Homo sapiens: one gene and its partners. The protein of the gene in region 1 purifies or fractionates together with the protein of each later gene. This does not show direct contact. Each region holds a gene or a part of one and is shown in the gene's direction. Other genes may lie near its edges.

Region 1 (4,038 bases):
AGTTCCTGCAATCTCTTTGGTGCTGACACATAGTAGGTACTCAATTAACACTTGAGCTAAATTGGATTTAGCAGCTTGATCAGAAACGCCTTCCCCAAAGATCCCCTCCGTCTCATTATCCCTGCATCTCCTCCCCAGCCCTACTTCTCCTTCACTGTAAATCCCCCAAATCCCACCTGTCCTTTACCTCCCAGCTCAAGGATGCACTCCGTCCAGAAAGCCTTCCCTACTACTCTCACCCTTGGTGAGCTCTCTACTTCATAAACTGTAGAATCTTTAAAAGGTTGTTTTGAAGATTAAGTCAGATCATGGAAGTAAAATATTGGAACACGACTGGGCACATCATAAAGGCTGGATAAACTTGGGCTAGTCGTTAGGAAGGAAAAGAATGGCCTCTTCCTGCTGCTTCCACTTCTGAAAGCCGCCAGAGGGCGTCCACTACCCAACATTCCCTGGCAGGGGGTGCGGGAGAAGGGGCCCTTCCCCAAGAACAGAACTTCCTAAAGCGGATGTTTGAACCTCGCAGTTATACAGAAGACTTGTAGGAAGGATGGACAAACGTTCTTAAGCCCATGACGGCCCTTAACCTGGTCGCTCCCTTTTCTGATGGAGACTCAGGCAATAGCGTGTGTGCGTGTGTGTGTGTGTGTGTGTGTGTGTGTGTATCCGTGTGTCCTAATATCAGACATTTGTTCTTGTTTTCCAGGCAGCGTCTCTCTAGCTTCTTTCTGCAATGCTGTAGTACTCTCTCCAGTATTTCAGGAGGAGGAGCATTTGCTATTTCAAAAACGAAAAACAAAAACCTGGCCACATCCATTTTTTTCAGCAGCCATGCGATTTCCATCATTGCTCACATTTTATGGATGAGGAAACTGAGTCTTAGAGGAATTCAGTAAGTGATACCTCTCTCGGATGTGTTGAGTAACTGAGACTGCACTCCCTCCCAGGCTGGAACGTCCTGGTACTCCCACCCCCACAGGCTCAGTTCTGTGCATTATCTGCCTTTTTCGGGGATTGTGACCCTTCTTCACAGCCTCCTCCCTCAGAAAGCCACCACCATCAGATCCGATTCTCCATGGTACAGCTTCTTCTTTGGTTCCACTCTCCAGCACCCTGGGGAAGCAGGAACAGAGGCTGCTGCCACTCTCTGACCTCTAAGGGGTTAAGGCCTGGGTCCCGCCCCTCTTCCCGCCCGCCTGGCGGGAGTATGAATAGCCTCGCTCCCACTCCCGACTCTCAGTCGCTCAGGCTACTCCCACCCCGCCCCGCCCCGTCATTGTCCCCGTCGGTCTCTTTTCTCTTCCGTCCTAAAAGCTCTGCGAGCCGCTCCCTTCTCCCGGTGCCCCGCGTCTGTCCATCCTCAGTGGGTCAGACGAGCAGGATGGAGGGCTGCATGGGGGAGGAGTCGTTTCAGATGTGGGAGCTCAATCGGCGCCTGGAGGCCTACCTGGCCCGGGTCAAGGCGCTGGAGGAGCAGAATGAGCTGCTCAGCGCGGAGCTCGGGGGGCTCCGGGCACAATCCGCGGACACCTCCTGGCGGGCGCATGCCGACGACGAGCTGGCGGCCCTGCGGGCCCTCGTTGACCAACGCTGGCGGGAGAAGCACGCGGCCGAGGTGGCGCGCGACAACCTGGCTGAAGAGCTGGAGGGCGTGGCAGGCCGATGCCAGCAGCTGCGGCTGGCCCGGGAGCGGACGACGGAGGAGGTAGCCCGCAACCGGCGCGCCGTCGAGGCAGAGAAATGCGCCCGGGCCTGGCTGAGTAGCCAGGTGGCAGAGCTGGAGCGCGAGCTAGAGGCTCTACGCGTGGCGCACGAGGAGGAGCGCGTCGGCCTGAACGCGCAGGCTGCCTGTGCCCCCCGCTGCCCCGCGCCGCCCCGCGGGCCTCCCGCGCCGGCCCCGGAGGTAGAGGAGCTGGCAAGGCGACTGGGCGAGGCGTGGCGCGGGGCAGTGCGCGGCTACCAGGAGCGCGTGGCACACATGGAGACGTCGCTGGGCCAGGCCCGCGAGCGGCTGGGCCGGGCGGTGCAGGGTGCCCGCGAGGGCCGCCTGGAGCTGCAGCAGCTCCAGGCTGAGCGCGGAGGCCTCCTGGAGCGCAGGGCAGCGTTGGAACAGAGGTTGGAGGGCCGCTGGCAGGAGCGGCTGCGGGCTACTGAAAAGTTCCAGGTGAGGAGGTTGAGGGCCTGGGTGAGAGAAAGTCCCAGAAAGCTCCAGAAAGTCCCTTATGAAGCTCAGAGACCTTCTGGGAAGGGAGTGGGGCTAGCTGGCTGCTGAATCAGGAGCCAGTTCTCAGAAACCTGGTGCCACAAGTCCTAGACTTTTACAGCCCGTCTAGTGTAGGATGCGAATGGTGGGGCTTCTCGAAGCACATCCCGGGTGGGCAGTCAGGCCCAAGACCCGTTGCAGCAGCCCCGCCACTCTCTGGATGGCACCTTCTGGCTCTGATGATGACCGGGGCTCCGGGTCCCTTCCCAGGCTCTGGTATTACTAGGAGGACACCCAGCACTGTCGCCTCTGCGCTGAATCTGGTGGCCTGGCCACTCAGAATCACCAAGTTCCTCACAGCCCTCCTTCTCCTGAGGGGAGGAGTGAGGGGCCGTGAATGAATGGCTACCAGCCCCCTCCCATGTCATGGCTTCTCGGCTCCCTGGAGCACATTCCAGAGGCCCATAACAGCTGCTCCTTCTCACAGGGCACAGATGTGACCAGCAGCTGAGAAAACAGCTTCTTGCCTGGGCCACACAGAGGTGCCATGGCCACCTCCCCATCCCTCCTCTCAGAGGAGACAGAATCCAGAACATGTGGGAAATGGGGGTGGGGCGGGGGTGAGAGCCTGCTGTGAGGAGCAGGAGACAGTTGTGGGAGATGGGACCAACGGGGGACGGGGGCTGTTTGCCTTCCAGTCCTGCAGGCTCCAGGCATCTTGATTAATCGTTTTTCCTTCTGCTTTCGCTTTTTTTTCCCCCTCTTCTCTCTCCATAACCCATCTCGTCTCCTCCCTCACCTCCCCTTCCTGTGGGAGCTGTGTTCTGAGCAACATGTGCTACCATTTAATCAGCATCCTCAGAGGAGGAGCAGGCCATGGGAGAGAGCTGAGAGTGCTGACAGGGGCCCTGGGCTCATCTTGGCTGATCCAGAGGGGGCTCTCTGGGCAGGGAATAGGGTAGGGGAGGCGGGGGTCTGCTACACAGATAAGTCAGCCAGGGAGCAGGAGGTGCTTCCCGGGCAGCGGCAGCGGGCAGGAGGCAGGTTGGTTCACAGAAGGGACCCCAGCCCCTCCACTGACTGCCTCTCGCCTGCCCTGCAGCTGGCTGTGGAGGCCCTGGAGCAGGAGAAACAGGGCCTACAGAGCCAGATCGCTCAGGTCCTGGAAGGTCGGCAGCAGCTGGCGCACCTCAAGATGTCCCTCAGCCTGGAGGTGGCCACGTACAGGTACGAGACGAGCCCTGTCCACCCAGGCACACAGAGGCACACACACATGCTGGGGCAGACTACGTGGCTGAAGGGGACCAGAGGTGTAGGTGATGGCAACTCTGCTGCCACTGGGTTCTGTGACTCTAGGCTGGTCACTTCCACACCGGAACATGTCCTGCCTGAAACCGTCTGCTCCCCCATAGGCTGGAGACCTGAGCAATGTCCTGTGCCCAGGAAATCCCCCCAGGAGAGATGATATTGCCGAGCGGGACAGCCTCTGGAGAGGGGCTGGGCCCGTGTGGGGCAACTGCATCCAGACCCTTCCCCCAAGGGGCAAAGCTCCAACTCTATGTGTGCCCGCACCCAGGGGGTCATGTCCTTTGGCAGCCACGGAAAGGAGGCATTGCAGGCATGGGGTGGCTGCACTGACTTGCCACCTGACCTGGGCCTCAGCCTCGTCTAGGGGCTGAGGGCTGGGCTGGGGGACTTCCAAGGCCTCTTCTAGCCTGGATGTCATGGGGCGAGACTCCTCTGATGCCCCTAGTGCCCTTGGTCCTGCCCAGCCTTTCATTGTCCACATTTTCTGTTATCCTAGAAATGGCTGAGACCAAGGAGGGGTGGCTTCT
Region 2 (3,212 bases), on another chromosome or scaffold:
TGCTAAAAACTACATGGGGCAGGACTAGATGGGAGACCAGAGAGGAGGCTCTTAGCATAATCTAGAAGATTAGACCAGAGTAATCAAGGTGATGGAGAGAAGGGGAAAGATTCAGGACATGTTTTGCAGATAAAAGGTTCCAGGATCTGGTGACAGATGGTATGAAGGCTCTAAGCAAAAGAAGCATCAAAGATAGGCCTAGGCCTGATATTTAGTTCATGCCACTGCCTTGGCTACCTAGGTCTTTGTGTGAGTCTTGTTATGAAGGGCCAATACTTTTCTGTATCTGATGAGCCAAAGTTTTGGGCTTGAAATGGGGAAAAATCATGGATGAACAAGTTTAAAGAGGAGACAATCTAAGTTCTGTCCAGCTACATGTTTTAACATTCCCAGATTGATGAGATTTACTTTAAAAGTACCTTCATGAAATTTTTCTGAAACTTTATTCTACAGCAGTTCCAAAAACATTCCAGACAAAAGTGTGTCTTATTGTTTCATATAACAGACATGAATCTGATTTCTTCCACAACTTCTGACATCTTATCCACTAGTGAATTAGCAAAGTTTTGTTAGCCTGCAGGGGTTTCTATGAGGGTTTCTCACCCTCAGCACTACTGACATTTAGATGGGGTACTTTGGTTTAGGGGGCTGTTCAGTACATTATGGGATGTTTAGCACCATCTCTGGTCCACAAGATGCCAGCCGCAACTCTCAGTTATGAAAACCAAAACTGTTTCCAGATATCACCAAATGTCCTTTGGGAGCAAAATCATCCCCAGTTTAGAACCCAACTCATGGTGCTAATAGTAACAAAACTAACACTTATAAAGCACTTGTTATAGCCCTTTTATAATACTACCAGAGCCAGTAGGTAATGTTTAAAATCTTATAAATCATAAAAATAGATAAATGCCTTTAATTTCTATTTTAAATGTAATTGTAAATCCACTCAACAATTGATGTTGGACCACAGCCTTTTGAGTATGAATCCACTGGCTGGATTTCCAAATTGCCATGGTACATGAAGCATTTTCTACCATTTTTAGTTTCAAGTATTTTAGTGGGGGAAAAACTGGATTCTGCTTTCATCCTTGCTTTCTACATTTGTCCAGTCTTTTAGTTTTTTTACCCATACCCAATTTAACCACTTTTTGACTGGGGATGGGTTGAGGGGAGCAACTAGCTTTTTTTTTAAAGTATTTCTAATGCATTCAACCTAGCTTTCAAATAAAACCAGAAGTCTTTTACACTCACAGTTTATGGACTGCTGAATATTTAACTAAATTACATAATTACCCTAAGTAAAACAAACAGGTTCAATGACCACTGCCACTAGCCTTTTGTAAGCATGCAGCTGATCATCTGTTGGGACAAAAGCATAAGGTTGGTTAGAGAATAGCCTCCTAGCCAGTCTTCTACCATGTGATAAGTAAGTATGCCTATCGGCTAGTTTTACTAGGTAAAAATTGGTTAAGAGGTATTGTATGTGCGAAACACCATGTAAATTACTCTACTTGCATTATCTCTTTTAATCTTCACAACAACCCTAATACATAATTATGTTAATGTTTGTGTTTTGCCTTTGAGAAAACAAACATAAAGATAAGTGTTTTACATAAAGTTACATAGCTAATAAAAGGACCAGGATGGGAACCTCAGGCATTCTAATATGTGCTTTACCATTTCATCACAAGTCCAAGGCCATAAAGGTTAATTTGCTACAGAGCACTAAGCTCCAGTTTGGTCCATGATCACAAACTGTACCTTGGAATCTTGACCTGTCATCTTCAAACTAAGTGCTACGGCAATAAAATATGGGATATTAATATAAATCTACTACTTGGAACAATTCAAAGGATTGATAAGAAAGCTCAGTGATTCCAAATCATCAAGTCTATACATTTAAAGATAACCCAAATATACCTGTATTAGTTTCCTATTTATTTGATAACAAATCAACAAAAGCTTAATGCCCTAAAACAACAAAAATATATTATCTATAGGTTAGAAGTTTGACACAGGTCTCACAGGGCCAAAACCAAGGTGTCAGCAGGACTGTGTTCCTTTCTGGAGGTTCCAGGGAAGAATCCATTTCCTTACCTTTTCTGGCTTCTGGAGGGCACTCAATTCCTTGACTTGTGACCCTTCTTCCCCCTATCTTCAAAGCCAGTAGTTGCATCTCCCTGACCATTCATCTGTAGCCACATCGCCCCGACTCTGAATTTTCCTGCTTCCTTCTTCCACTTTTCAAAACCCTTGTGATCACATTGAGCTCACATGGATAATACAGGCTGATCTCCCTACCTCAATAAAATGAGCCTTAGAGCCTTGGCACAGCTTTGAGCCACAGTCAGTTCCTGTTCAGCTACATTAACTGTTTTGTTTTTAGTAGGCGTTTTCAAAAGGTGATGTGACTCAAAGGTTGATTTGTATGAGAAATCAGTCATGATTGAATTGCATAACTATCTGTCCTCAAAGTCCATGTAAATAGATCTATGTAATTATAATTAAAAACAATAATTGCAGATATATCAGAGGTCCTTTAGTCTTCTAATAGTTGAGTCTAATAAGTCTCACCAAATTCCACACACAAGATTCTAACACATGTACATATGCATTTGTTACAGAATGTAATTTAGATACTATAGTAACCAAATTCAAGGTAATGGACAAAACTTAGTAATTTTCATTAAAGCTTTCTATTTCGGGCTTCTCCTGAATGTGTGTTTTAAATGACTAGGACATTAAAGGGATTGTTTCAGAAGAACTATCAGCACCTTTTTTATGTGTCATGTTCATCCAGACTATCCATCCAGATAATTGCTTTATTTCTGATATGTCTTCCAAGGTTGTTACCCCGTGTGGGATAGGCAATGAATTTAACTGTCTTTTGTCCCTAAAAGTTTTATAAGTTTTTATCTAACATATTCATGTAGTGGAAAAAAACTCACAAAAGTGCTTTCAAGCATTCACAGTGGTGTCTAAGCCACTATTAATTGAAAAAGCTGCTGTATTTAAAAAAACTGCTAGTTCCTGTGAACCAAGATCATGCCACTGCACTCCAGCCTGGGCCAAAAGTGCGAGACTCCGTCTCCAAAAACAAACAAACAAACAAACAAACAAAAACTGCTAGTTCCTTTAAAAACTTAAAAAACACTGGAACTCCAAAAAGAGCTATGAATTAATAAATTTCTATGATTATAAAACTGATA
Region 3 (3,500 bases), on another chromosome or scaffold:
CTCAAAAAAAATAAAAATTGTAAGCCTTAGGGAGGGGGAATCTTGTGGACCCAGCCTACTTCATGCACCTCTGGGCATGCTAAGGCCCTCCTGCCTCTGGCCCACCTGTTGTTCTCTTCCTAATCTTTGGCTGGTTGTGGCCACCTCATGGACACAGCATGAGTGTACACTTCTGACAACAATACGAGGTGCTCATTAGTGACCCCTCCTGTAGGTCCTGTAGGAGAACAAAGTGAAGAATTTTTACTACCCCCATTTCCTTTCCTTGAATTTCTTTGTTATTTTTAATTTTTTTTTAGAGATAGGGTCTCACTCTCTCACTCAGGGTTGAGTGCAGCAATGTGATCATAGCTCACTGCAGCCTCAACTTCCCAGGCTCAAGTGATGTTCCCACCTCAGCCTCCCAAGTAGCTGGGACTACAGGCCTGTGCCAGCATGCCTGGCTAATTTATGCATTTTTTGTAGAGATGAGGGGGTCTCACTTTGTTGCCCAGGCTGGTCTTGAACTCTTGGCCTCCAGCAATCTTCCCTCCTTAGCCTCCCAAAGTGCTGGGATTACAGGCGTGAGCCACCGTGCCCAGCTCTTTCCTTGAATTTATAAGGGTTCCACAATACTTCTAATCTTAGGAGATGGAAAAATCTTTTGATGAACAAAATGTTCCAAAGCGACGCTCAAGAAACACAGCTGTGGAGCAGAGGCTACGCCGTCTGCAGGACAGGTCCCTCACCCAGCCCATCACCACTGAAGAGGTGGTCATCGCAGCCACGTAAGTGCCCACAGGACTTCTCAGCCTTGTCTATAGTGTCTTTTTTTAAAAAAATACATTTAAAGAGTGTTCAATGAAAATGAGGCATTGGGGAGGTGATTTAGCTAGAAGCCACAGAGAAGTTAGTACTAAGGGATTTTGTTTACTGTGGTCTCTCTAAACTTTGTAATGGGATGTGTATCTTCTAGAAAAACTTGAAAGGAGTTTTTGTTCTATTTTGTTTCTGTCTCTGCATATTGATATTTTAAAAATCTCTTTGACAACGGAAAATAGAAACATGAAACTTGGTGGATTGCTGTGATGAAACCCCAGCTTCCACGGTCACCCGCTCCTGGCCGGTGATGCTCAGCCCGTGTGCCATTCATTTCCCCTTTCCTCCTGTGCTATTTTCAAGCAAACACTAGAGGTCTTACCATTTCATCCATAAATATCCCAGTACGCCCCTCTAAAAGATAAGGTTTGTTTTGTTCTTAATTGCCAGAAATCTCTTTTCTTTTTTTCTTTTTTTTTTTTTTTTTTTTTTTTTTTTGAGAGAGAGTCTTGCTCTGTCACCCAGAACGGAGTGCAGTGGCATGATCTCGGCTCACTGCAACCTCCGCCTCCTGGGTTCAAGCGATTCTCCTGCCTCCACCTCCCGAGTAGTTGGGATTACAGGCATGTGCCACCACACTCAGCTAATTTTTGTATTTTTAGTAGAGACGGGGTTTCACCATGTTGGCCAGGCTGGTCTCAAACTCCTGACCTCAGGTGATCCATGCCTCAGCCTCCCAAAGTGCTGGGATTAATTGCCAGAAATTTCTAAAAATTAAATTGCAGTTTGATAACTTTCCAAACAATAGGAAGTTTGTTTTGAATAATATGTTTCAATATATTCAGAATTAATTTCCCAGAGTAGTTCATTCAGAGATCATTGCTTCAATCAAGTGAAAAATTTTCTTATTTTTGCGGGGGGCATTGTTTGTTTTTTTGAGGCAGTGTCTCACTCTGTTACTCAGGCTGGAATGCAGTGCGCCATCTTGGCTCATTACAGCCTCAACCTCCTGGGCTCAATTGACCCTCCAACCTCAGCCTCCCAAGTAGTTGGGACTGTAGGCCCAACCACCACACCTGGCTAATTTTTGTATTTTTTGTGGTGATGGGGTTTTGCCATGTTGCCCAGTCTGATCTTAAACTCCTGGGCTCAAGCGATCCTCCCACCTCAGCCTCCCAAAGTGCTGGAGCTACAGGCGTGAGCCACTGTACCCAGCCTAGTTTTGTTGTTGTTGATGTTGTTAATTGGTTTTGTGCTTACCTTGGACACACAGACACCCTTCCTGGAAAAAAAAATAGTTCATCCCATTAGGTTATTGACATCCCAAAAGGCCTCTATGTCAGTGCCCCGTTCTGTAGACCTGCTGTTAGATCAGCTGCCTACAGTTCCTCCCCGAGTTGTTCCTCAGTTTCTTGGTGCATTTGTAGCTAAGTATATCCTTGCACTCATTAGGAACTCTTTGCAAATCAGTTTGTTTTTTAAAAAAAGAAATATTTGAATGGCTGGTGTAAAATAACAGGCAGATACCCATGGGAGCAAAACAGTAAATATAAGAAAAATTAATCCCATTTTAAGGCTCAATAAATCTACCTTGATGTGCCTATAGATTGTATAAGAACACTGATACTTTTAAAAAGTAGATTGAGGCCGGGTGCAGTGGCTCACACCTGTAATCCCAGCACTTAGGGAGGCAGAGGTGGGTGGATCACCTGAAGTCAGGAGTTCAAGACCAGCCTGGCCAACATGGTGAAACCCCGTCCCTACTAAAAAATACAAAAATATTGGCCAGGCATGGTGGCGCACGCCTGTAATCCCAGCTACTCGGGAGGCTGAGGCAGGAGAAATGCTTAAACCCAGGAGGTGGAGGCTGCAGTGAGCCGAGATCGCGCCACTGCATTCCAGCCTGGGCGACAGAGTGAGACTCTGTCAAAAAAAAAAAAAAAAAAAAAGGCTGGGCCCAGTGGCTTACACCTGTAATCCCAGCACTTTGGGAGGCTGAGGCAGGTGGATCACGAGGTCAAGAGATCAAGACCATCCTGGCCAACATGGTGAAACCTCATCTCTAATAAAAATACAAAAATTAACTGGGCGTGGTGGTGCGCGCCTGTAATCCCAGCTACTCAGGAGGCTGAGGCAGGAGAATCACTTGACCCCGGGAGGCGGAGTTTGCAGTGAGCCAAGATCATGCCACTGCACTCCAGCCTGGTGACAGAGACAGACTCCATCTCCAAAAAAGAAAAAGAAAGAAAAAAATTAGATTGGAAACAATATTCTAAAACACAGACATAATCTACTGATTTTTTGATAGCTAATATTTGCTTTTTTGAATTATTATTTTTTTTACACCAAGACATGTATTCTCAAGACAGAGTAAATCCTCCCAGCTCTGAACACCTATTCTTACCCCATTTGCTTTGGGTAGCCACTATCTCTTATTTCCTGAGTTTGTATTTGCTTTTGAAGTTCTTTCGTGATTTTTTCTCCCCAAAAATAATTAGCAAAATATTCTGTTAAAATTTTTGATTTAACGTTTCTGAATTTAAAACTATGCTGTCCTTAATGCTTCTTTTCTTCTCTCTCCTTATGAATGTTTCCTCTTTGGCAATTGCTTTTAAAGTGAACCTATCCCCGCTTCGTGTTCTGGGGGCACCCACCCTGTAATGGCGAGACTTCCTAGCCCCACTGTAGCTAGGAGCGCTGTG
Region 4 (3,500 bases), on another chromosome or scaffold:
TGTAATGGTGTGATTCAGCCAAGGGAAAAGTTACTTTCCATGGAACCCTGAAACGAAAGCTGGGTGTCATGAATACACCCAGATCTAGTTACTTTGGATATGATTATAGACTTGGTCATGTTGAGTCTCCTCAATATAGCCCTGCCCCCTGAAAGCCACTTCATGAAGGGGTCCGTTGGCAGGAATATGTGCTTTGTAATTAGGCAGCCAAGGATGTTCCAACATGATTATTTTAGAATTGAGGGTTCTGTGGGTACTTATTTGTGCCTTAAAAAGTCTTGAATTGACTTCTTAAAAATGTTCTGTTTGAAATAGATTTTATTTAGTTACTGATGGTTAAGGAGTTGTGAGGAGAAAAACGCTTTCATTCTCATATCACTACTCACCAGCAGCTGGGCTTTAATGCCCTACACTTAGAGCCCTTCTTGGAAGCAGCAAAGAGAGGATATGTGGTGTTGCTTCCCTCAGGGCAGGCAGGTTCAGAGCCCAACTTTCACTGAATAGTCAATCCATTCACTTCAGTGTATAAACGGGCCAGACCGAGCCTGGGGATATTTTTAATTTTCAGGGTAGAGCCTTGGGTTCTCGTATGCAGAGGCAGGAAGCAGGTTGGGTTAAGTGCCCTTGTCTCTGGCAGCTCTGTTAGACAGAGATGTGGCAGGAGAGAGAGCTAACGGCTTTGCCAGCCAGCCAGTGCTATTGTGGGTCCAGTATGACAGAGCAGTTGGACTCTCTTTTATATGCTAGCAGCCCTTCAGCTCATTGGATTCCGGCTTGAGCCTGTGTCCTGGTCACTTTCCTCTGGGGGCGGTGTGCTCAAGGAGTGCCTGTCAGGTTCCATGTGGAGTCCACAGGACTCCACAGTCCCAGTCCCACAGGACTGCTCTCTGGTGTGCAGGCTGGGTTGCCAGTGGTGATGGCTTCCATCAGCTACGTGGGGCTGTTGTTGAGCCTGTGGTCAGTAGGTGGTGCTGACAGGTCCAGGCTCCTGTGTCCTCTGCTCCCTCAAGATGATTTTCTCCCAGGTGGAAGTTCAGATCGGTAAAGCCGAGTGGGGACTGTGTGCAAGCACCCTGCGAGCCCTGAGAACTCCCCCAGCCTGCGACCCCAGCATTTAAGTTTAGTCTGAAGTACTGTAGCTGTGCCGACCCTCCCCGCTCTGGGTCTGTGATGCGTCAATAACTTAACACAAGTTTTCAAACTTAGATAATGAATATGTTGGTAACAGCCTTTCTGTTGCAGAAATTTTTTTCAAGGAAGTTTTGCTGAACTGTCAAGAAAGGGATATTCTCTGTATACAGAATCCGTTGTTCTCAGAGGGAGTAATGACACCTGTTTTTTTTTTTTTTTTTTTTTTGAGATGGAGTCTTGCTCTGTTGCCCAGGCTGGAGTGCGGTGGTGCGATCTCGGCTCACTGCAAGCTCCACCTCCTGGATTCACGCCATTCTCCTGCCTCAGCCTCCCGAGTAGCTGGGACTACAGGTGCCCGCCACCATGCCCAGCTAATTTTTTTCTGTTTTTAGTAGAAACAAGGTTTCACTGTGTTAGCCAGGATGGTCTCGATCTCCTGACCTCGTGATCTGCCTTCCTTGGCCTCCCAAAGTGCTGGGATTACAGGCGTGAGCCACCGCGCCTGGCCATGACACCTGTTTTTAGGAGCTCAGTCTTAAAAGTTTAGTCCCTCCAGGCATTGAATTTGGGCCTTGGTACCTTTCTGTACTTGGAACTGTAGAATGCTGGGTAAGCTGGTCTCACAGATGAACCTCTTAAGTTCCAGAGAGAAGGAACTTCCCCACTGCTCACTGAGAATGTAGAGCTGCTTAGGAAGCAGGTCACTTGCCTTGTGGGAACCTTGCAGCACAGGGCTGACTCTTGAGAGCATAACGCTAGTGGCACACTAGCCATTGTCACCAGGGCTCTAGGACAGAAGAGATGGTTTTTACAGTTTATTCCAGTGATTCTTCACTGGTTGGAGGTGGGATCCATTTGAGAGTCACTTTGGGGGACTTCTTCCAAGGGTCTACACCCTCCCCTGGAGATTTTTATATTGCTGACTACTCCCCCTCTCCATCCATGTTTGACTCTAAACTTTAGAGTTCAAAGGAATAGGTCCCATTTAGATGTATAAAGTAATTCATCCTTGTTATCTGTCTATGGGTAAAGAGTGAATATTTTTAGAAAAGAAAATGGGGGCCGGACACCGTGACTCAACATCTGTAATTCCAGCACATTGGGAGGCTGAGGCGGGCAGATCACTTGAGGTCAGGAGTTTGAGACCAGCCTGCCCAACATGGTGAAACCCCATCTCTACTAAAAATGCGAAAATTAACTGGGTGTGGTGGTGTGTGCCTGTAATCCCAGCAACTCGGGAGTCTGAGGCAGGAGAATCACTAGAACCCGGGAGGCAGAGGTTGCAGTGAGCTGAGATTGCGCCACTGCACTCCAGCCTGGGCAACAGAGCGAGACTCAGTCTGAAAAAAAGAAAAGAAAAAAGAAAACGGGGTGCTCATTTCAAGCAAGTATGATTCTCTCTGGGTGACTTCTGCAGTAGCTAGATGTTAAGGGGACCCGAGAGATAAGGCAGAAAGATGAGAAGTTTGAAAGAGGAAAGTCGGAGACAGGAAGGGCATCCAGTTAATTGTGAGAGCATCCTCAGGCCTCCTGCCTTCCAGCTGCCTCACCACTGGGTCACCAAAGCACTAGGAGCACGTCGCGCCTGGCACTGCACTGGGGGTGGGTGTGCTGTACTCTATTGTCAGTCCCCAGACTGCATCTCCCTTCTTTTATCCCAAGTTGAGGCCTAAGTGTCACAGTACAAGAGCTGTGAATTATTCAGTGACAGCCATGGAAAAGAATTTCCTTTTCATAGCCAGCCAGCCAGAGCAGTGACTGACTCCTGCAGCTGGATGAGTTTGCTCATCAAGAACAACCCCAGAACATTTCCCCTATTACAGGTAGCACTTGTGCTTGTCAGCTCTTTCAAGGCTTGAGAAGGTTTGGGGAACCCACAGTTCTCAGAGATGGCAAACATTTTTTTCTGTGCCCACTTTGAGGCTGTTTATGGAATGAAGTTCTGCATTGTATTCGTGCCTCCAGAGCTTGTCCTAGGTCAGGTATTCCTCTTCCCTCCCCTCTCCTAAGCCTCCCTGAGCCCCTTCCTGCCTTGGCTGAGGATTGCTACTTTCAAGTGAAGGACAAATAAGGGGAGGGCCACCTGTGTGTGTGTCTGATTTTCTGTTTGTTCTGGGCCTGCAACCTTGACAGGGGATGTGCTTGTCACTGAGGAGCTCTTTGGTCTTGGGCTAGCTGCAAAGGAGCAAGAGCCTGACATTCAAACTTTTGTTGTCTTAGTGATGATTTGACAGGAGTCATGAAACCTCTACTCTTCTTGTGGAGGGAAACCCAAGTTGAAATCGATCAGGTTTAGTCCTTTGTGTAAACTAAAAGGGTTATGGGTTTATAAGCCAGCCTGCCTTGCCTTTTCCTCCCACTCATTCTGC
Region 5 (3,500 bases), on another chromosome or scaffold:
TTTAGACCCAGAAGTTTCCCAAATATGCAGTTATTATTGGCCATGTAGAAGTTTCTAAGACCTAGGGCCATATTTTCTAATGTTTAAATGTCATTTTTTTCAAATAATGTTAATCTTCAAAATGTGATTTTGTCTATTTCTAGAATGTGATTTTATCAGATCTCATTAAAGCAAACTCAAGAAAACTATTCAAGGGTTGGTCAAAACATGCCAGTATGTGAAGTATGATTGGGACATGGAGATATGTTTACTTGGAGCTTTGTTTTAGGCATACTTTATATAATTGAGCTGTGTATTTGAACTATATGAATATGACAAGTTACATAAATTTAGCTAAAGACATTTTGGTTTAAAATCTTACACATTTTTGTAATTTCTATAGGAAAAAGCTGTTGCTCAAATGAAGATAATGATCTCAGAGTGTGAATCATCTGTGAAGTAAGTCATTAATGAAATTACATCCAGCTTTTTAGGAGATTTTCAGTGAATACAGCTTTATCTATTCAGTAGCATTGCAGCAATAGAAGAATTTCCCTTTCAATTTCCCCATTTTTGTCAATGGTAGCATCATTTTCTCAGTCTCCAGCTTGAAAATGTTATCTTCTTTAACCTCTCCTTTTCTGTCATCCACATCTAAACACTTATGTCTTATTAACTATTCTCCTATATACCTATTTGTTCCTTATTTTTACTATAATTATGCCACTTGGAGCCTAATCATTAAAACCTAAAATTACTTTAGTAGCCAATCTCGAATTTATTCTCCATCTAAACCTATCTTGAGCACTGTCACAAAATTTTACATTTTATGTATAGTCTCTCTAGGCAGATTGTAAGCCACTTCAAGAAAAAAGTCACTTATTATATTTATTTTACATACCCTTAACATTTTATATAATAGTGGGGATTATAAACATTTAATAAATATTTGCCAATTGAATCTATGCTTTACTTTTTGTTTGTTTGTTTTTGAGACAAGGTCTCACTCTGTCGCACAGGCTGGAGTGTAGTGGCGAGATCTCTGCTCACGGCAACCTCACCCTCCCCAGGCTCAGGTGATCCTCCCACCTCAGCCTTCTGAGTAGCTGAGACTGCAGGCGTGTGCCACCACGCTCAGCTAATTTAAAAAAAAATTTTTGTAGAAACAACGTCTCCCTATATTGCCCAGGCTGGTCTCGAACTCCTGGGCTCAAGCTATTCAACTGTTTTTGTTGTTGTTGTTGTTTTTTGTTGTTGAGACGGAGTCTCGCTCTGTTGCCCAGGCTGGAGTGCAGTGGGGCGATCTCGGCTCATTGCAAGCTCTGCCTCCCGGGTTCACGCCATTTTCCTGCCTCAGCCTCCCAAGTAGCTGGACTACACGTGCCCGCCACCACACCCGGCTATTTTTTTTTGTATTTTTAGTAGAGACGGGGTTTCACCGTGTTAGCCAGGATGGTCTCTATCTCCTGACCTCATGATCTGCCCGCCTCGGCCTCCCAAAGTTCTGGGATTACAGGCGTGAGCCACCGCGCCCAGCCCCCAAGCTATTCAACTTTTAACACTTGAAAGTTTTCTGTGTTTACTTGACTGTTGGAATAACATTTTTTTTTAACTTCATTTGCATGTAATTATTGGTAGAGCTCTAAAATACCTGTTCTACCTAATTAATAGGTCTCTTAATGCAGCAGTTATAATTTCTTATAATCACAGTATATTTGTATTCTAAGTATACTTAGACTATAAGTTTTCTTTTAAATGAACTACAGTTTTTAAAAGTTTTCTTTATTAGTTTCACATCACTCATTTAACAGCCAGCTGAAAGAAACATTGGTTAATCGAGATCGTGAGATAAACAGCCTCCGGCGCCAGCTTGATGCAGCTCACAAAGAACTCGATGAAGTAGGAAGATCTAGAGAAATCGCTTTTAAGGAAAACAGAAGACTGCAAGATGACCTGGCTACAATGGCAAGAGAAAATCAAGTATGAACACAAGGCATAAATTTTGATAGTTTTATACTTTCCATTGTTTGCTAAATATTAAAGCTCTAAATATTTTTTCTAAAATCTGATGATATAAAAATAAGTGACATAAATAATTCATTAAGGACAATGGTGTTTATCAGGGTATTAAAAAATGGAGCTTAGGCCGGGCGCAGTGGCTCACACCTGTAATCTTAGCACTTTCAGAGGCTGAGGTGGGTGGATCACTTGAGGTCAGGAGTTCGAGACCAGCCTGGCCAACATTGTGAAAACCCCCCCCCCACCCCCATCTCTACTAAAAATACAAAAATTAGCCAGGCCTGGCGGCATGCGCCTGTAATCCCAGCTGCTCGGAAGGCTGAGGCAGGAGAATCACCTGAACCTGGAGGCAGAGGTTGCAGTGAGCCGAGATCGTGCCACTGCACTCCAGCCTGGGCAACAGAGTGAGACTCCATCCAAAAAAAAAAAAAAAAAATGGGCAACAGCGTGAGACTCTGTCAAAAAAAAAACACATAGCTTAGAATGCTGCTATATATCACAGGGTGTCTAATGGGTGCAACTGGTCTTCTCACCATTTTGGTCTTTGTTGCAAGGAAACCTAAAGGTGGGAGCATGAAATTCTGTATGTCAGAAATCATTGTCACCCTACCGGGCGAGGACATCAGCATCCCTCCCAGAGCAAAGTTTCTGTGTTTTAAAGACTCAGGATAGGTTTTAATTATTTGTGCAAGCTTCTGTCGGCTCCAAAATACACCTGTAGATAAATGAATGAGTGTTTTAGAATGGCAAGTACTGAAAGGTGTTAGTTCTGTTCGTGCTGGTTTCTTAAAAGATTGTACTGAGAAAACCAGTGATTTTACTGTTTTAAACATCTTACGTTTTTAAAAAATTATTTTCCGTATTATTCAGCATAAAGCATATTGATGAAATATGAATGTTTTTTAATGTCAACCCCTGACCATAGCTAGCCTTTAGTGTAAATGCCAGATACATGATCAGGACTATTATGGGAAATGTGTGATAAAGTTTGGTTAAAAAGTCAGTATCAGACCAGGCGTGGTAGCTCACGCCTATAATCCCAGCACTTTCGGAGACCAAAGTGGGAGGATTGCTTGAGCCCAGGAGTTTGAGACCAGGCTGGACATCATAGTGAGACCTCATCTCAGAAAATTAAAAAAAAAAATTAGCTGGTATGGTGACATGTGCCTGTGGTCTCAGCTACTCGGAGGGCTGAAGTGGAAGGATTGCTTGAGCCCAGAAGGTCGAGGCTGCAGTGAGCTGTGATCACGCCATTGCACTTCAGTCTGGGCGACAGAATGAGACTCTGTCTGAAATATTTTAAAAGGCAAGATCAGCCAGGAAAAATATGTGAAAATAACACTTAGGAACAGTTTTCCTTTTGCCCTACTCTATCTTATTCTCCAATTCCAAAGGAATTATTTGAATATAAATAAAATTTATTTGGTGTTGTGTTCATTTTAGATTGTCTTTAATTTTCTGATTTGTAGGAAATCTCATTGGAATTGGAAGCAGCAGTGCAA
Region 6 (3,500 bases), on another chromosome or scaffold:
TTCCTTTTAATATAAATAGAGGGATAACTTTCCTGAATAATCACTAATATATGGTGTCCCAAAAGTCTTAGTGTAGTTTTAAGCTATAATTTCTGAAGTATATATGCTACAAACTTAACAAAAAATTCTTTTGAAAGTTTAATTATTTAAATATGTTATATACATATTTATCTTGGTAATTTTGAATAATATACCTTTAATTTTGATATTTTGTTTCAGTCCCTTTGAAGATGGTAAACATTTAGCAGTAGGAGCCAGGCTACTCTATTCCTCTTTTTGTAAGGCACCAAGAACTTACAAAAATCAAATAATAGGAAATGTTTCCATTTCTCTAATGACTGGCTTTTGTGATTTGCGGTCTCCCCACAGAGTATCTGGACCTTCTTCATTGAGAACAATGTTTCCCATAGTACACTGGTGGCATTGTTCTATCATTTTGTTCAAATAGTTCATAAGAAGAATGTCAGTGTACAGTATCGAGAATATGGCCTTCATGCCGCTGGGCTTTACTTTTTGCTACTAGAAGTACCAGGTATGTAGACCTGATATGATAGGATAAATCTTCTGTCATTTTTTTCTTTCTACAGTTTTCAATTCTTATACTTTGTTTCTTGTTTCTTCACTTATAAATGGGGCAGTGCTAACCCATGGCAGAGAGTTGTTGCGAGGAGCAAGTCTCTAAAGTACATGGCATGTTATAGGTCTTGGAAAACCTTCCCCCTTTTTTTTTTCATCCGAAGTTATGCTATCTATAAACTAATAAAAATAGTCTGAGAAGGAGTGCAAGAGTTCCACGCCCACCCTCCACCACGGCCGTCTAAAATTCTGATATTGCCCTTTCTTCTCATGATTCCTTGTCTAGACTGAGAAATACTGCTGTGGGGAGTCATTGCTTTTTACCTCTCCGATGTTGGTATTGAAAAATAGATTAAAACCATTCTAATCAAGAAAGCAGGAAAGCAGCTAGTAATACTTGAAGGAGAGCACTGACCAGGAGTCTGTTTTCGAGCACTGTTTTACTTGATTGTCAGAGCACTGAGGAGGCTGTTCCTCCTATGACAGTGAAATCCATTCTCTTCCCTACTCCAAACACAGGGTGAGAGAGAGTGGAACATAGAGATTGAGTCAGATAACCTGAAGTTCATATGGAAAAGAGAATGGCAAGATCAGTCACCTTGCTGCTTATCTTTGTTTAATTACAAATGTTTAGCAAAGGATTTATTCCATGTGATCTGGGAATGGGCAAAAAGGTCTTATATTTAAAGCCCTGAACATTGATTTGTGTTGTTGTTAATGCTCCCATCATGACTTTGGAAATGAGTAAGTTCCTAAAGGATTTTGTTGCTAAGCAGTGTCTCGGTTGTAACTAGGCCCTCTCTCAAAAAAGTAGTGGTTTTAGAAACCCAGTTTCACTCTCCTCTTGCCAGATGCAGTTTCTTCTGATTAAGGTTGAGATTTATGCCAGAGCAAAGAGGTGGCTGTTACTAATTGCGTGGGCCACTTGCAGCTTTCCAGCAAGCCGTATTCCTGCCAGTTACCTTCTGTTTTTAAATGTTTCGGGTTTATGATTGGGATGCTGTCGATACTTAACATTCGATCACAGTATATTCTTTTTCAGGATCGTTTTGGTTGTTCTGCCTCCCTTGCATTTCCATGTGAATTTTAGGATCTGTACGTGAATTTCTGCAACAATAAAAAAGCCAGCTGCGGTTTTGACAGGGATTGCATTGAAACTGTAGATGAGTTTGTGAAGTATTGCCAATTTAACAACATTAGGTCTTCTAATCCCTAGCCGCAGGATGTCTTTCCATTTATTGTAGATCTTCTTTAATTTGTTTCAATAATGCTCTATAATTTTTGGTGCGCAACTCTTGCATCTCCCCTTTAAAATTTATTCTTAAGTGTTATTTTCAATGCTAGTGTAAATGAAATTGTTTTCTTAATTTTATTTTGGTTTATTAGTACTGTATAGAAGCAAAATTGATTTTGATTATTGATCTTCTATCCTAGAACCTTGCCAAACTCATTTGTTGGTTCCAACAGGGTTTTCTTTGTGTAAGATCATGTCATCTGTGAATAGACACAGGTTTACTTCTTTCTTTCTAGTCTGGGTTCTTTCTATTTATTTTTCTTACCTATTTGCCCTGGCTAGAACCTCCAGTACAGTGTTGAATAGAAGGGGAGCGTGGGGATCCTTGTCTATTCCTGATCTTAAGGGGAAAGCATCCAGTCTTGCCTTTAGGTATGATGTTACCTGTGGGTTTCTCAGGATGGCCCTTATTAAGTTATTATTCCTAGTTTACTGAGTGCTTCATTATGAAAGGCTGTTGGATTTTGTCATTCGCTTTTCTGCACTTGTGAAGTGCTCATGTGGTTTTTGTTTCTTATTCTAATATAGTATATTACATTGGTTGATTTTCACATATTAAACCAATTTTGTATGACCTTGGTCATGGTGTATAATCCTTTTTATATGTTGTCAGAGTGTTTGCTAATATTTTGTTGAAGGTTTTTTGTCTATATTCATAAGGGATATTCTTTTTTTGAGATATTTTTGTCTGGTTTGAGTATCTGGGTATCTTGGTAATACCATTTTCATAGAATAAGTTACATAGTATTCCCTTCTCTTCTGTATTTTGGAAGATTTTGGGTTTTCTTTTTTCTTCAGATGTTTGGTAGAACCCACTAGTGAAGTCATCTGGGCCTGGAGTTTTTTGAAAGAAGTTTATGTTTGTAGAATTTCTAGTGATCTCCTCTCATGCCTGATGTTGGTGATTTGTATTTTGTTTTTTCTTGATCAATCTAGATCGAGATTTATTCATTTTACTGTTCATTTTGGAGGGCCCCCTTTTGATGTCATTAATTAAATTCTGTTGTTTGTCCCTTTCTTGTTTCATTGATTTCTGGTCTTATGTCTACGATTTCCTTTCTTCTTACTTTGGGTTTAATTTGCTCTTATTCTGACTTTTTAAGGTAGATGCTTAGATCTTTGTTCTCACATGCATTTCTTTGTTTCTAATACAAGTATTTAATACTATAAATGTCCCTCCAGGTACAGCTTCATCTGCATCCCACAAATTTCGATGATATGTTTTTACTGTTGTGCAGGCCAAAGTGATTTTCAAATTTTTCTTGTCATTACTTACATCTCTGAGTTGTTTAGTAAATTGAGTTTATTTTCCAAATATTTGAACTTTCCTGAAATCTTACTGTAATTGAGTTTTAATTGGTGGGATCAGAGAACATACTTCATATGATTATGATACTTTTAAATTATTTAGTTGTGCCTTTTTTTTTAATGGACTTAGAGTCTAATTTGGTGAATCTTCCATTTGCACTTTAACAGAATGTGTACCTTGCCTTTGTTGGATCTAGTATTCTGTAAATGTCAGTTAGGTCAAGTTGGTTACAAATGTTATTCAAGACTTACATATGCTTCCTGATGTTCTGTTTATTTGTTCTATCTGTTGTTGAGAGAGGAATGTTGGAATCTCTAAGAA
Region 7 (2,653 bases), on another chromosome or scaffold:
CGGCTTCAGTCTGGGGTGGTGGGTGAGGGGCTGCGTGAGAGAGGGAGGCTGGGGGAGGATTACTCTTCGGGTGGCCCCACCCTCACTCATTCCCATTCCCTCATCCTTCTAGGACAGAAGTGGCGGTTGCTGACGCCTGGAAATTCCCCTGAAGGTGGAGCACCACCCAACCCCCCTGGGTCCCACCCTCCCTCAAGGCCTCCTCCACCTCCACCTCCACCCCGCCTGGCCTGGCGTCCACCTCTGCGGCTCCTACCTGGGTGCAATCGAGTTAAATGGCTGATAAGCAGATCAGGTCAGACTCCAGTCCTGGCTGCGTGCCTCACCCCCACCCTGACCCATGGTCAAGGAAGCCGGTCCTGACACCCCTGTCCACACAGCCTGCCAGCCAAGCTCATCAATGGCGGCATCGCCGGGCTGATCGGTGTCACCTGCGTGTTTCCCATCGACCTGGCCAAGACCAGGCTGCAGAACCAGCAGAACGGCCAGCGCGTGTACACGAGCATGTGAGTGTGCCGGGCGGTCGCGGGGAGTGGGCCCAGCATGTGGCAGCAGGAGAGGTGGGGGCTCTGCTCCTGTGCCCCCCACCCTGTTTGACAGAAGGGAAACGGGAGGCAGGCGGGCCTAGGGGAGATCCCACGTGGGTCAGGACTGGGGTCGGGGCTGGGCTGAGGACTTGGCCTCTTCTATCAGCCCTAGACAGTCCAGGGACCCTGGCCTCCGGCTGGCCCCAGCTGGCCCTGGCTCACCCTGTCCCCTTGGCCACAGGTCCGACTGCCTCATCAAGACCGTCCGCTCCGAGGGCTACTTCGGCATGTACCGGGGTGAGGTTTGGCTCGGCTGGGCTCGATATGGGCAGGCCTGGGTAGCGCCCGCGAGTCGTGGCAGGGAGCGGTGGGGGAGGCAGGGCAGGGCGGCCAGCCTGGGCCTGGTGTGTGAGCGTGGACGTGTTTGTGGGGGCTGTGCCTGTGCAGGGGGGACTGGATCTCTGGTGAGTGGTAGTTCTCAGCCTCTCCCGTGGCAGCTCCCCACCCCCACTTAGTGCCTGGTGCGTGGGATGCCATGGTACATCTGTCTCTTCTCTGGTGGCCACAGCTGCCTCTGCCTTCTGGGCCAGGCTGGACCCCGTTTGTGGCTGGGGATGGGAGGGAGTAAGGGGCATTACCGCAAAGCAGCTTAGGACACAATCCAGAGCCTAGATTTGGCAGAAGCTCTCCAGCCCTGAGCCTTCGGCACTGAGATGGGGGCTCTCCACAGCCTCCCCCGAGCTCTGGCCCAGTCCAGACCACACACTCCTGTGACCTCTGGCCCCAGCCCCCTGCCAGCACAAGCACCATCTGTCCTCCAGGGAGGGAGAGGTATCCTAGGGAGGCCTCAGGGGCTCCGGGGCAGTCCTCATGCCCTGAGCAGCAAGATGCTGCCCAGAATCAGAGACAGATGGAGCTGCAGTGGGCATGGGAGAGCCTGAGCCTGAGGTGCTGCCCCATCCCTGCCTGGCCCCGCCCCACCTGGCACACACCAGGCCCAAATGTGGGTGAGAGAACAGATGGTGGCCAGGAGTGACTGGGACAGGGTTTTGCCAGCCAGGAGGCAAGTCCTGGCCAAGCGCCTCCCCACTCAGGCCACCGAGCATGTCCCCCCAGCTGACCCCCTGCCCCACAGGAGCTGCTGTGAACTTGACCCTCGTCACCCCCGAGAAGGCCATCAAGCTGGCAGCCAACGACTTCTTCCGACATCAGCTCTCTAAGGACGGGTGAGGGTTCTGCCTGGCAGACACTCGAGGGGTCTTTGGCTTCAGATAAAGGATGGGTCCACCCTGCCAGCTGGGTCCCACCTGGGGGCTCTGCCTGTCTTCAGCCCCTTGCTTGGGGCTTCTTTGACCTCGTGGGGCACCCTCCCTCCTTTCCCCTGACCAGGGGAGCAAAGCAGATGTCAAATCAGTGGGGCTCTGGCTTGGTAGCCCTTGGCCTGAGGGCACTGACCAGCTCCCCCATCACTGGAGGGGGACTGCAAGGGCAGCCCCTTTTTGGGGCACTTGACCCCCAATTTCCCATTTTCCTTTGTCGCAGACAGCCCCACTGCCCTCCCCAGGCCCCTGCCTGTGGGGCCGTCTGTCCATCGGTCTCCTCCCTGCCTGCTGCTGCAGTGGCGGAGGCTGGGGGCTGTACCCCCACAGGCCTGCATCTGCCTCCACGGCTCCCACCATCCTCTGCGCCCAGGCATGGTGGGCAGCCCCGAGGGTGGCAGGTAGACCTGTCTCTTCCCACTTACTGCGGCCCCGCCCCTACCACAGGCAGAAGCTGACCCTGCTTAAAGAGATGCTGGCGGGCTGTGGGGCTGGCACCTGCCAGGTGATCGTGACCACGCCCATGGAGATGCTGAAGATCCAGCTGCAGGATGCAGGGCGCATTGGTGAGGGCGGGGGGAGGGGGAGGAGAGGGCAGAGGTGCGGGAAGAGGTGAGGGCGAGGGGAGGGTGGGGACGCAGGGAGGGCCAGAGCGTGTCCCCTGCCCAGTTCGCACAGAAGAGGAGACAGCAGCCTCTTTGTCCCCAGCCGCCCAGAGGAAGATCCTGGCTGCCCAGGGCCAGCTCTCGGCCCAGGGGGGTGCCCAGCCCTCAGTGGAGGCTCCAGCTGCCCCTCGGCCCACGGCCA

The links.
Region 2: the proteins of NES (region 1) and RNF13 purify together in Homo sapiens (affinity purification with mass spectrometry; one large-scale study listed by BioGRID and IntAct). This does not show direct contact.
Region 3: the proteins of NES (region 1) and SVIL purify together in Homo sapiens (affinity purification with mass spectrometry; one large-scale study listed by BioGRID and IntAct). This does not show direct contact.
Region 4: the proteins of NES (region 1) and CLTA purify together in Homo sapiens (affinity purification with mass spectrometry; one large-scale study listed by BioGRID and IntAct). This does not show direct contact.
Region 5: the proteins of NES (region 1) and CEP135 purify together in Homo sapiens (co-immunoprecipitation; one large-scale study listed by IntAct). This does not show direct contact.
Region 6: the proteins of NES (region 1) and NCAPD3 purify together in Homo sapiens (affinity purification with mass spectrometry; one large-scale study listed by BioGRID and IntAct). This does not show direct contact.
Region 7: the proteins of NES (region 1) and SLC25A22 purify together in Homo sapiens (affinity purification with mass spectrometry; one large-scale study listed by BioGRID and IntAct). This does not show direct contact.

The regions. Positions count from the first base shown.
Region 1 is NC_000001.11:156,674,608-156,678,645, reverse strand, and holds the start of NES (nestin), read left to right. Parts: upstream 1-1,238; 5' UTR 1,239-1,381; coding exon 1,382-2,164; intron 2,165-3,305; coding exon 3,306-3,430; intron 3,431-4,038. UniProt on the Homo sapiens protein: Required for brain and eye development.
Region 2 is NC_000003.12:149,956,215-149,959,426, forward strand, and holds part of RNF13 (E3 ubiquitin-protein ligase RNF13 isoform 1 precursor), read left to right. Parts: intron 1-3,212. UniProt on the Homo sapiens protein: E3 ubiquitin-protein ligase that regulates cell proliferation. Involved in apoptosis regulation. Mediates ER stress-induced activation of JNK signaling pathway and apoptosis by promoting ERN1 activation and splicing of XBP1 mRNA.
Region 3 is NC_000010.11:29,526,972-29,530,471, reverse strand, and holds part of SVIL (supervillin), read left to right. Parts: intron 1-627; coding exon 628-767; intron 768-3,415; coding exon 3,416-3,500.
Region 4 is NC_000009.12:36,204,421-36,207,920, forward strand, and holds part of CLTA (clathrin light chain A), read left to right. Parts: intron 1-300; exon of another isoform or gene 301-3,500. UniProt on the Homo sapiens protein: Clathrin is the major protein of the polyhedral coat of coated pits and vesicles.
Region 5 is NC_000004.12:56,007,945-56,011,444, forward strand, and holds part of CEP135 (centrosomal protein of 135 kDa), read left to right. Parts: intron 1-382; coding exon 383-438; intron 439-1,790; coding exon 1,791-1,959; intron 1,960-3,467; coding exon 3,468-3,500. UniProt on the Homo sapiens protein: Centrosomal microtubule-binding protein involved in centriole biogenesis. Acts as a scaffolding protein during early centriole biogenesis.
Region 6 is NC_000011.10:134,213,968-134,217,467, reverse strand, and holds part of NCAPD3 (condensin-2 complex subunit D3), read left to right. Parts: intron 1-369; coding exon 370-532; intron 533-3,500.
Region 7 is NC_000011.10:792,629-795,281, reverse strand, and holds part of SLC25A22 (mitochondrial glutamate carrier 1), read left to right. Parts: exon of another isoform or gene 1-18; intron 19-112; 5' UTR 113-275; coding exon 276-295; intron 296-380; coding exon 381-506; intron 507-693; coding exon of another isoform or gene 694-768; coding exon 769-824; exon of another isoform or gene 825-829; intron 830-1,662; coding exon 1,663-1,753; intron 1,754-2,293; coding exon 2,294-2,412; intron 2,413-2,515; coding exon of another isoform or gene 2,516-2,554; coding exon 2,555-2,653. UniProt on the Homo sapiens protein: Mitochondrial glutamate/H(+) symporter. Responsible for the transport of glutamate from the cytosol into the mitochondrial matrix with the concomitant import of a proton. Plays a role in the control of glucose-stimulated insulin secretion.